2 separate regions of the Homo sapiens genome follow, and region 2 is linked to region 1. Evidence: fine-mapped expression QTL. A gene starts in region 1. The other region holds a variant in brackets. All regions are shown on one strand. Distances are from middle to middle.

The links. PIP is the estimated chance that this variant, and not a neighbour inherited with it, causes the effect. A credible set is the group of variants that fine-mapping cannot tell apart.
Region 2: its variant is the best candidate, but not a certain one, in a credible set for the expression of AGMO in prefrontal cortex (GTEx, PIP 0.77).

Annotation. Positions count from the first base shown.
Region 1 is chr7:15,559,703-15,565,097 of GRCh38, reverse strand. It overlaps AGMO (alkylglycerol monooxygenase), which reads left to right and starts at 3,083. Exons shown (of 13, transcript NM_001004320.2): 1 at 3,083-3,378; 2 at 4,827-4,957. The coding sequence starts at 3,253. LOC124901591 (a long non-coding RNA gene) reads right to left here. Exons shown (of 3, transcript XR_007060217.1): 3 at 4,898-5,002.
Region 2 is chr7:15,163,265-15,168,659 of GRCh38, reverse strand. It overlaps a transcript of AGMO not described here. Among named protein-coding and RNA genes, the nearest start is that of DGKB, 260 kb to the right of the region's middle. The variant T/G (reference allele first, on the strand shown) is at 3,178.

The sequences.
Region 1 (5,395 bases):
AACTGGCTTTTGACTCATTTAGCTTGTATTAGTCTATTCTCACACTGCTGTAAAGAACAATCTGAGATTGAGTAATCTGTAAAGAAAAGAGTTTTAGTTGCCTCATAGTTCTGCAGGCTGTACAGGAATAATTGCTAGGGAGGCCTCAAGTAACTTTCAATCACTGCAGAAGGGGAAACAGGTGTGCCTTACATGACCAGAGCAGGAGGACGAGACAGAAGAGGGAGGTGCTACACACTTTTAAACAACCAATCTCTTGAGAACTCACTCACTATCAGGAGAACAGCAAGAGGGCAATCTACCCCCATGATCCAATCATCTCCCACGAGGCCCCTCCTCCAACACTGGGGATTTCAATTTGACATGAGATTTGGGCCAGGACGCAAATCCAACCATGTCATAGCCTAATGGGAAGTACTGTTGGGAGACTGGTGGGCAGGAAGAAGGGAGAAGCCATAGTACTTCCCTTTCTTCCCTCTCTGCCATGGGTATTATTTCTGGCTTTGATTGGCTTTGCTCCATGGGAAATACTCTTGCTAGACAAGCCAATGGTGGTTCTAACTTTTCCTAGATGACCATAGCCCCTGGGCCCTACTAATACAACCTTCTCCATTTGTCCCTACAATTTAACAATGGTAGTGGCTTCCTATTGGTACTAATCTCTAGATTACCTCTTTGTTCCTGCTTGGTTTTTTACTTCTCCCATCATCTATGTAACAACTTTTTTCTTGTATAAAATTGCTTCTGCTTTAAAAAGTTAGAAATAATTTTGTTTTGCTCATTGAAATGCACACACACACTTTTGCAGCCAGTAAAAACAACGAAGAAAAGGCTGTACCTGTATAATCATATACTAAAAAAGAAATGTTCCTGGTAAGTTATTGACTCCAAGAAGGAACTTGCTGTATCTTATGTTTGATAAGGTCCATTGCAAAATCGAACCATTATGTGTATATAGAAACGTATTTGTATAGTAATAATGATAATAACTATCCCTTTTAGGAAAAAACAGATATGGCAAAAAAAAAAAAAAAAAAAAACCCCACCAAGAGGATATGTTATCCCTATGAAGTGAAGTGCAAGGTGTGCATATATTGAGAAGAAAGGATGCTGCCACTTTTGACTTTATATACAGCTATATTGTTTGTATTTTTTTCTCTTGTATCACATTGTTAATTTCCAAAATTGTTTTGAAAGCAGGTAATAAAACAGTATGCCTACTATGATCATTTTTATTAAATTTTTTTTTGTTTTTGTGACAGAGTCTTGCTCTGTCCCCCAGCCTGGAGTGCAATGGCAAAATCTCCACTCTCTGCAACCTCCACCTCTTGGGTTCAAGCAATTCTCCTGCCTCAGCCTCCCGAATAGCTGGGACTACAGGTGCCCATCACCACACCCAGCTAATTTTTGTATTTTTAGTAGACACGGGGTTTTGCCATGTTGGCCAGGCTGATCTCAAACACCTGACCTCAGGTGATCAGCCCGTCTCGGCCTCCCAAAGTACTGGCTGGGATTACAGGTGTGAGCCACCACGCCCAGACACCTTTATTAAAAATTAATGTCCATATGTACTTATTGGTAATGGGAATGGTCTGAAAGGACAGTCAATTCTGCTATAACATGTGCTTTGAGATTAAATTTGTTCCAATGTGATTAATATACCAGAAAATAATTTGAGCATACTGCCTATGCTCATGTGTGATTTTATTTTCAGTGAAAAAGAGTAGTTGAACTTTAAAAAACTGAACTGAAAAACAGAAAGGCTTAGGATGCACAAAATACACCCACCACTTATAGTAACACCCTCACTTCACCTGTGTGTTGTGAGCCTTGACACCCATATGTCATATTGCAACTTTCTGTCTGATTTCAGATAACCCACATTTCAACAAGCTAAAGTAACTTGCAGTTTGCAAATCTTCCAATGCCTAATTTCCAAAACAAGTTTCAGGTCTTTTTCAAGGTAAAGCATCATATTTATTTTAGTATTTATGTATATCTTAACCATGTAACGTGTGAAAGTGTGCTACCATTTTTATTAGGCTCTCATCCTTTTTTTCTTGTTCCTTGTGGGTCATTATGAAGTTTTTGAGTATTTTACCCTAATCACATTTTTTCTCACAAGTCCCGTGGTTTTTATTGCACAATTTTGTACAGTATAGTGATTTTTAGGAATGGATATATCACATTATAGCAAAACTGACCATACATGTACCAAAATGTTAATAGCGTTTTGGGCAGCTTATTATTGCTTATCTATAGTTTCTATATTTTTCTAAAACAATCGTGCATTGATACTTTAATTAGATCTATGTAAACATCTTTAAATGATGAAATGGCAGCTAAAGGATGATTACAGCTGTTTTGGGTAAAGAGCTGAGGCTATTCTGGCAAGCTCCACATATTCACTGGTAATGTAATAAATTAAGTGCCTTCTAATCTACTTAAAAGGTACAATCACTTAAGCTCTTTCTGTAAAACAGAAACAGGTCTCACAGCAACATCTTGGCACCTTCTTTAATCAGAAAGTTCCCATAAGTACTAAGAAGAATAGAGAAGATGTGACTAGCCAATTTTCCATTAAATAATGTAGATTATGTAATAAGCCAAATGCCCCTAAACTGGTTGCAAACATTCAGAAGTGGTAATAACATGATTCAGATACAGAAATATAGATAGGCAATAAGGAGCCAGATATTCAGTGCTTACTGACTTTCAAGCTATTATTAAGTAGCTCGCCTATACACAGTCTCTGTAGGAAATAAAGAAACTACAAGCTTGAACACATTGTAAATTTCTAAATGAGGAGAAAAAAAGGTTTTTCTATGTGACTTGATGCTTGAATTTCTATCCAGTTTTTCAGAGTGAACATATACCTGCGTTATCACTTTTTTCTTTCCGAGACACTATTATGATGTTTTTTCTCTTCTTTTTTAAGTAGTAACTTGCTCCACCTACAGTCAAACTGCACTGTATGACTTTGATTTGGGTATGAGTCCTCTTTTCCCTCCCCCACATGCCCTGTTTCTGGCCCAGCGCCCACTGAACTCTGTACTTGTTCTTGATCCTTGTATTTTCCTGTCTCTCTACACAGAATCGGCTGTTGAGTGTGCTCTCAGTGGAGCTTTGGTTTTAGCTGTTCTCTGACAAAGAGCTTGTTCTGAGCTGCACATCTCGTCCTCTTTGTTCAGCCTCAGGCTTCAAGCATTGAATCCTAAATATTCTCCAGCTGGGAATCAGACAAGGGCAGAAATGAAGAACCCAGAAGCCCAGCAGGATGTTTCAGTTTCCCAGGGATTTCGCATGTTGTTTTACACGATGAAACCCAGTGAAACTTCATTCCAAACATTAGAAGAGGTGCCTGATTATGTAAAAAAGGTGAGACTTTATTGGAAGAGGCTACTCTTATTCTTGCTGCTTTCTTAATAAATGGTAAGGTCAATCTCCTTAGGGTTTTGTTCACTTTCATTATTCAAATGATTACATTCTAATAATAATAATTCAGTTTCTTAAAGGCGTGAAGCAAAAGTAGAATTTCCACTTGAATTTTCTTACAATCCATAGCCATCTTCACCTGTAAATTCCCTCTTTTATATGTCACTCCAGAATATGACAAAAACAAAAGTTTAAAGTTTTCCTGGACTCCATGGCATTGTAAATGTAGCTATTGGAAGCTCAATGACAAATAGTTACACCACATCAGTAAACTTTGTAACAATTTCATTTTTAAATCTTTCACTTGTCCACCCCTTCCAGGGAAACTATTTCCTCTTTCATTTGGTAGAGTAGTTCAGCAGAATGAAGGATATGCAGCTTGACCAGGTCCAGCTCTGACTTCCTAAGTTTGAATTTGACCCAAGTTTTCTTTGAAACTCTGAAGTGCTCAGAGGCACATTTCACTTCTGGTTCCTGGCTATGATTGGAAGTGGAAATATCCAGAATTAGAACTTGAATACTGAAGTTCCCCACCCTATCAAAGTTATTCCTACAACACTCACTAGTTCATGGCAGAAATAGAAAAAAAATGACATCATAGAATATGTTATTGAGAGTTCAGTTTAGAAAGCTTCAAAACTCATGATTAGCTTCCAAATGAGTAAAATCCGTATCTTTTTCAAGATTAGATATTACACTTTCTTTCTGAGTTTTTAAGTTAAAAAAAGTGGCACTGATATCTTCATAAATTATTATTGTTTATACTGCAATATCAAACCAAATTCAATGCTCCATCACCAATAGTGGAGCTTTCAAAACATCTCTTATTATGTGAAACAAAAATCAAAACCAAATGAATAAAATCTGAATCATGTTTTAAGCAAACATGTAAAATTACCATATTCTCTAAAATTCTAAGCAGAAAATTGTCTCTACTCTTTGAATTTCATCATTAGAAATAGTTCTGGTAAGTCTAATATGAAAAATTAGAATTATGTGCATCTTTAAGGAAAGCCTCTTGAAGTGGGTCTAAATTATACATGTAGAGACAATAGACCTCTAATTATCTACCTTATTCTAAATGTATTTTTTAAACTAATTTGGAAGATGTTCCTCTTAATCTTATAATATTATAATTATCGTGGTTATATCTATGATTACATTTCATATTCAAATTGGATGATAGAATTTGAGCACATGTTTAGTGTATGTCTAAAATAATTAGACTTCTTTACCACTGTGTAGGAAGTAATCCTCTAAAATGAGTGTCTACCATCTCCTGCAGGGCTTCCCAAATCTGGGCCTTTCAATTCTGAAATGACTAATCAGGAAATGTAAAATAATTTCATATGGAACATAATAGCATCTCTTTTCTGCAACTTCCTTTCCAGGCAACTCCATTTTTCATTTCTTTGATGCTGCTTGAACTTGTTGTCAGCTGGATTCTCAAAGGAAAGCCACCAGGTCGCCTGGATGATGCTTTAACGTCAATCTCAGCTGGTGTTCTGTCTCGACTTCCAAGGTGAGTTAGATGGTCAACAACGCTGAGCATAAAAACTGAAATTGCCTAAGTATGAGGGGCAAAGGAACCCAATGCATGGGAGAATTAGTTTATTTACACAAATTTTCCCAAAAAATTCAGTTCATGTCATTATTTAAAATTTTGATATTTTGTTCTTCATTGATTTTTTGCACTTATTTAAAAAATCACCGCAAACATTATTTATCTTGACTCTGTTGATATCCCTTTGAAATGAGTGCTTCATTTGCCTTATTGAGGTTCCAACTCTGAGTTATGGTCTGGTTCTCTATTAAAATTGTGTTTTGTCTCTTCCAGCTTCAGAAAGAATAGCTGTCTCGGGTGTAGCCATTCCCTAGAGCAGGTCACACAAATCTCTGAATAACTACAATAGTTTGCTAATTGGTGTCTGGCTCTAGTACAACCCCGTTTGCAGCCAAG
Region 2 (5,395 bases), 400 kb after region 1:
CTTGGCTTAAAAATAGCCTGCCTCCTAAGGAAAGAATCTTTCTTTCTCGTATGTTATTAGCCAATGCAGAGCCAAAAGAAGACCAAGTGGTAGGGATGATACACAGGTCTGTGGACAAGCTCTTGAATTCAAGGTCAGCCTCTCCACAATTCCCGTCTTAGCTCTGGATGCATGGTAATAATTTGGGCAGCACATGCTGGCTGACCAGGTGGTGCCCTAAAATTTGTGAGCTTAGGGCCTCATGAATGCTTTTGAAACAGGAAACATTGATCTAACTATTAATGTATTACAGGGCTATAAAGCCCCGCCCTTTTTATTTATTTATTTATTTTTTCATTGCTTTTTCTGATTCTTTACTTCTGTTGCACTAGCTTATTAGGGCCTGAGACCTACCACCAGCGTATGCTGGCGATCTCCTCTCCCTTCAGTAGGTGTACTAGGCATAGTTAAAAATTAAAATCAAACTAAGCATATGTACCCTGAAGCTGCCTGTGCTGGCTAATGACCTGTACCTTTACTGAGGCCAGTGCAGCTGGTATTAACTGGCCACACCCTGTGCAATCAGAATCTGCAATAAATGTCTGTGTGGCTAACAGGTCATTTAAGGCCCGTGAGCTTGCATGTTTGCTGAGATATATTTAGCCTCTGCACCATTGCTAGGACCAGCTTTGATTCTTGTGTGTTCACCAAGGTCTAGCATTTCTATTCTATAGAGACAGCTCATTGCCTGTAGATAAGATCACTGTGTCCTGCCATGAATGATGATGTCTATATCCCATATTTATTAAGGTTTAGAAGTGTTCCTTGAGGACACAGCATTTAAAATTAAATCACACTTTCATTTCCAGAACATCTTCCAAAAGTGCAGGATTTGGAATTTTAAATGTTTATTGCCATACAGCTAAAAGACAGGTTGATGATGCCAAAGCACTGATAGGTGTAAATGTCTTGCTTGAGTTGACCTTAGAGAGGCTTCTAAAGTGGTTGAAAAGCTTTCAGAATAGTAATCTTAGCCCTGCAATCTTAGATAGGTGCGAACTTTTGGTTTTCAGTCTGATATAAGAACCTAGTGAATGGCTAAAATGTGTTAAAATTGTCTTTAAAAATGTTCCGTGATATTTTTTTCTTTCCTTTTAGTGTTTGGAGGTTGTAATTGCCAAAGCAGTATAATGTAGTCACCTGGTTTTTTGTTGCAGTCTACTCTTTAGCGTCTCTTGCAGAATGTTACTTGTGATGTGCCTACTTATTATTATTGAATATAAGTCTCTTCATAATCCTTTTGAACAAATAAAGTCCGAAAGAAGCTATTTCTTAATTTTAGAGATATTAAATAACTAGCTTAATTTATAAAGCAATGTTTGAAATTATGTGAGTTGTTTACCTTCAACACCATATATAACCAAAATTTACCAATCATTATTTCTAAGTAGTGTTTTTCAAACTCTCCACAGAATATTTTTTAGTATATTTCAGTGAAATAACTTTTCAATATTCATGGACATTGTTTTAATTTCTATAAAACACTGATTGCTATAAATTTTCATGATTTATGGTGTTATTTAGAATCTAAGATTTTTTTTAGAACTTATTGATGAAATTTAGAATGTCAGTTTAGACTATTAGAAATTTCCCAATGTGGGAAAAAATAAAAATAGAATCACTCTCTATTATCTTTTCTCCAAGTATCTACTGGACATTCTACTGAATGGATAAGAGCCCTTTTGAATTCAGCATTTCTCAAACTGAGCAACCTGACCTCCCACTTACACCCCTAATCTTGCTCCATCCAAAGACTTCTCTATCTCAGTTGTCAGAAATGCCAAAGTTCTACTTTCTCAAGCTAAAAGCTTGCATCATCCTGGACTCCTCTACTTCATGTACTCCCCACACTGAATTCATTAGGAAATCCTATTGATGTTACAGTAAAAATATATGAAGAATGTGACCACTCATCACCTTCACTGCTTTGACTCCCATCCCGCTTCTTACTGGATGACTGCAGTGGCCTTCTAACTGGTTTCTCTACTTTTCCCCCTTTTCCTTAAGTAATCTTCTTAATATAGCACCTGGAATGATAACTTTTCTTAAAACGTAAGATGGATCCTGTTCCTACTCTGTTTAAAACCTACAAACAGCTCAGCATTTTGCTGAGAATAAAAGCCAAAGTTCTTACACTGTCCAAAGGGACATTGTATGATGGATGCCTTCTTCCTCTCTGACTCCTCCTTTACTACTCTCTCCCTCCCCACTCTGGTCTCCCGACACCAGCATATTTGCTGTCCTTTGAATATACCACACACCCAGCTGCCCTGGGGCTTTGCACTCATTGCTCCATCCACCGGTGTGGTCTTCCCTAACGTGTCAGGAGGGCTCACTCTTCATTCATCTCAAGTCTTTGCTCAAGCATCCTTCTGGTGATTCCCCTTAATAGAGCAGCCTGCTCTCCTCTTCTCACTCAGCACCACCGATCCTTCTTATCTGGCTCTACTTCATCTCTTTTTCTTCTCACGTCTCTAGAATCGATATAATAGGCTTATTTATTATGTTTATTACTTAGCATCTGTCACTTCCTATAAGAATGTATACAAGGCCTGGGGTCGTTGTCTGTTTTGTTAGCAACGTATCATGCTCAACACATGGTAGGTACACAATTATTGAACAAATGAATGATATAAGTAAGATTTCATATGAATATTTACATATTTATATACATACCTATAAATCACTTAAGGTATACTTAAAATTATCTTGTATGAGTACACAATAAATTCTTCAATTAATTCCTTACTATGGAGCAATAATATGCTTTAGGTTCCCATTATTTTAATCTTTAATGAACAAGCATGTATGTAAATATTTTTATAGATTCTCATTTATAGAAAAAGTACCTTGGGTAGTTTTACAATGTCCCAATTAACCACGTGTTATATCCCATTTTAAGAGATTAAATTATATGTCATATTCATTTAAGTAACATAATGGAAAAAATTGTACTAGACTAGGAACAGTAAAACTTTTCAGATATGCTACTCTTTACATCTGGGTAAGTTATTTAAAATTCTTGAGCTTGTTTTTCTCGACTTTTAAAATAATATACACTTTATCATCTATGTCATTTGTTTATAGGGTTAAATACAAAAACATAAGGCTTATTGTTTTAGGAACTGTAAGACTCTA[T/G]TGAAGTGTAGTTTTACCATATTAAGTTACCCTCAAACTCTGAGTTGTAATTACCCTTCAGACTCTTGTCTTTTATGGTAACTTTCAGAATTTTTTAATGTTTATAGATTCAGGGAGTACATGTGCAGGTATGTTACATGGATATACTGCAGGATGATCAGGTTTGGGCTTCTAGTGTACCCATCACCTGAATAGTGAACACTGTACCCAATAGGAAATTTTTCAACCCTTATTCTCTCCCTCCCTCCCCACTTTTAGCATCCCTAGTGTCTATTATTTTCTTTGGTATGTCCATGTGTACCCACTGTTTAGCTCCCCCCGTAAGTGAGAACATGTGATATTTGTCTATATCTTGAATTATTTCACTTGGAATAATGGCCTCCCGCTCCATCCATGTAGCTGAGAAAGACATGATTTATTCTTTTCATGACTGTGTAGTATTCCATAGTGTATGCGTACCACATTTTCTCTATCCAATAATCTGTTGATGAACTCTTAGGTTAATTACATGACTTTGCTATTGTGAATAGTGCTGTGATACACATATTAGTGCAGGTGACTTTTTGATATAACAATTTTTTTTCTGTGGATAGATACTCAGGATTGCTGAGTTGAATGGTAGTTACATTTTTATTTCTTTAAGAAATTTACATACTGCTTTCCATAGAGGTTGTACTTTACATTTCCACAAACAGTGAATAAGCATTCCCTTTTCTCTGCATCCTTGCTAATATTTGTTGTTTTTTTGACTTTTTAGTAATAACCATTCTGACTGGTGTGGGAGAGTATCTCATTGTGGTTTAAACTTGCATTTCTCTGAAAAAAAATTTGCATTTCTCTGAAAATTAGTGAGGATGAGCATTTTTTCATACGTTTGTTGGCTGCTTGTCTGTCTTTTAAGAATTGTCTGTTCATGTCCTTTCCTACCTTTTAATGGGGTGTTTTTGTCTTGTGGAGTTTTTTGAGTTATTTATAGATTCTGAATATGAAGGCATAGTTTGCAAATATTTTCTCCCATTCTGTGGATTGTCTATATACTCTGTTGATTATTTCTTTTGCTATGTCGAAGCTCTTTAGTTTAATTAAGTCCCATTTGTCTATTTTTGTTTTTTGTTGCATGTGATTTGGGGATTTTAGTCATGATTATTTACCTAGGCCAATGTCCAGATAATTTTTCCTAGGTTTTCTTCTAGGATTTTTATAGTTTCAGGTCTTACATTTAAGTCTCCACCCCATCTGAGTTAATTTTTGTATATGGTGAGAGATAGGGGTCAAGCTCATTCTGCATATGACTATCCCATTTTCCCAGCACCATTCATTGAATAGAATGTTCTTTCCCCATTCTATATTTTCGTTGACTTTGTTAAAGATCAGTTGGTTGTAAGTATGTGGTTTTATTTCTGGGTTCTCTATTCTGTTTTATTCATCTATGTGTCTATTTTTATACAAGTACCATGCTGTTTTGCTTATCATAGCCTTACAGAGCCAGTAATAAGAAATCTCCCAACAACAATAACAAAAAATGCCTACAACCAGACAGATTCATAGTCAAATTTTACCAAACACACAAAAAAGAGCTGGCACCAATCTTACTAAAACTATTTCAGAAAATCAAAGAGGAGGGATTTCTCCCTAACTCATTCTGTGAAAGCAATATCATCCTGATATCAAAATCAGGCAAGGGCACAACAATAAAAAAAAAGAAAACTGTAGGCTAATATCCCAGATGAACATAGATGCAAAAATTTTTAACAGAATACTAGCAAACTGAATCCAACATATAAGAAAAAGATAATACATCATGATCAAGGGATTGTTATCCCAAGGATATGAGGGTAGTTCAACATACGCAAATCAATAAATGTGAGTCACCATATAAACAAAATTAAAAATAAAAAACCATAGGTCATTTCAATAAACGCAGAAAAAGCATTCTATAAAATCTAACATCCCTTTAGGATAAAAATGCTCAACAAACTAGGTATAGAAGAATACACCTCAAAATAATAAAAGCCATATATGACAAACCAACAGTCAACATCATATTGGATGGAGAAGAGTTGGAAGTATTCCCCCTAAGAACTGGAACAAGACAAAGATGTCCACTCTCACCACTCTTACTGAACATAGTACTGGAACTCAGCCAGAGCAGTAAGGCAAGAGAAGGAAATAAAAAGCATGCAAATTGGAAAAGTGGAAGTCAAATTATCTCTGTTTG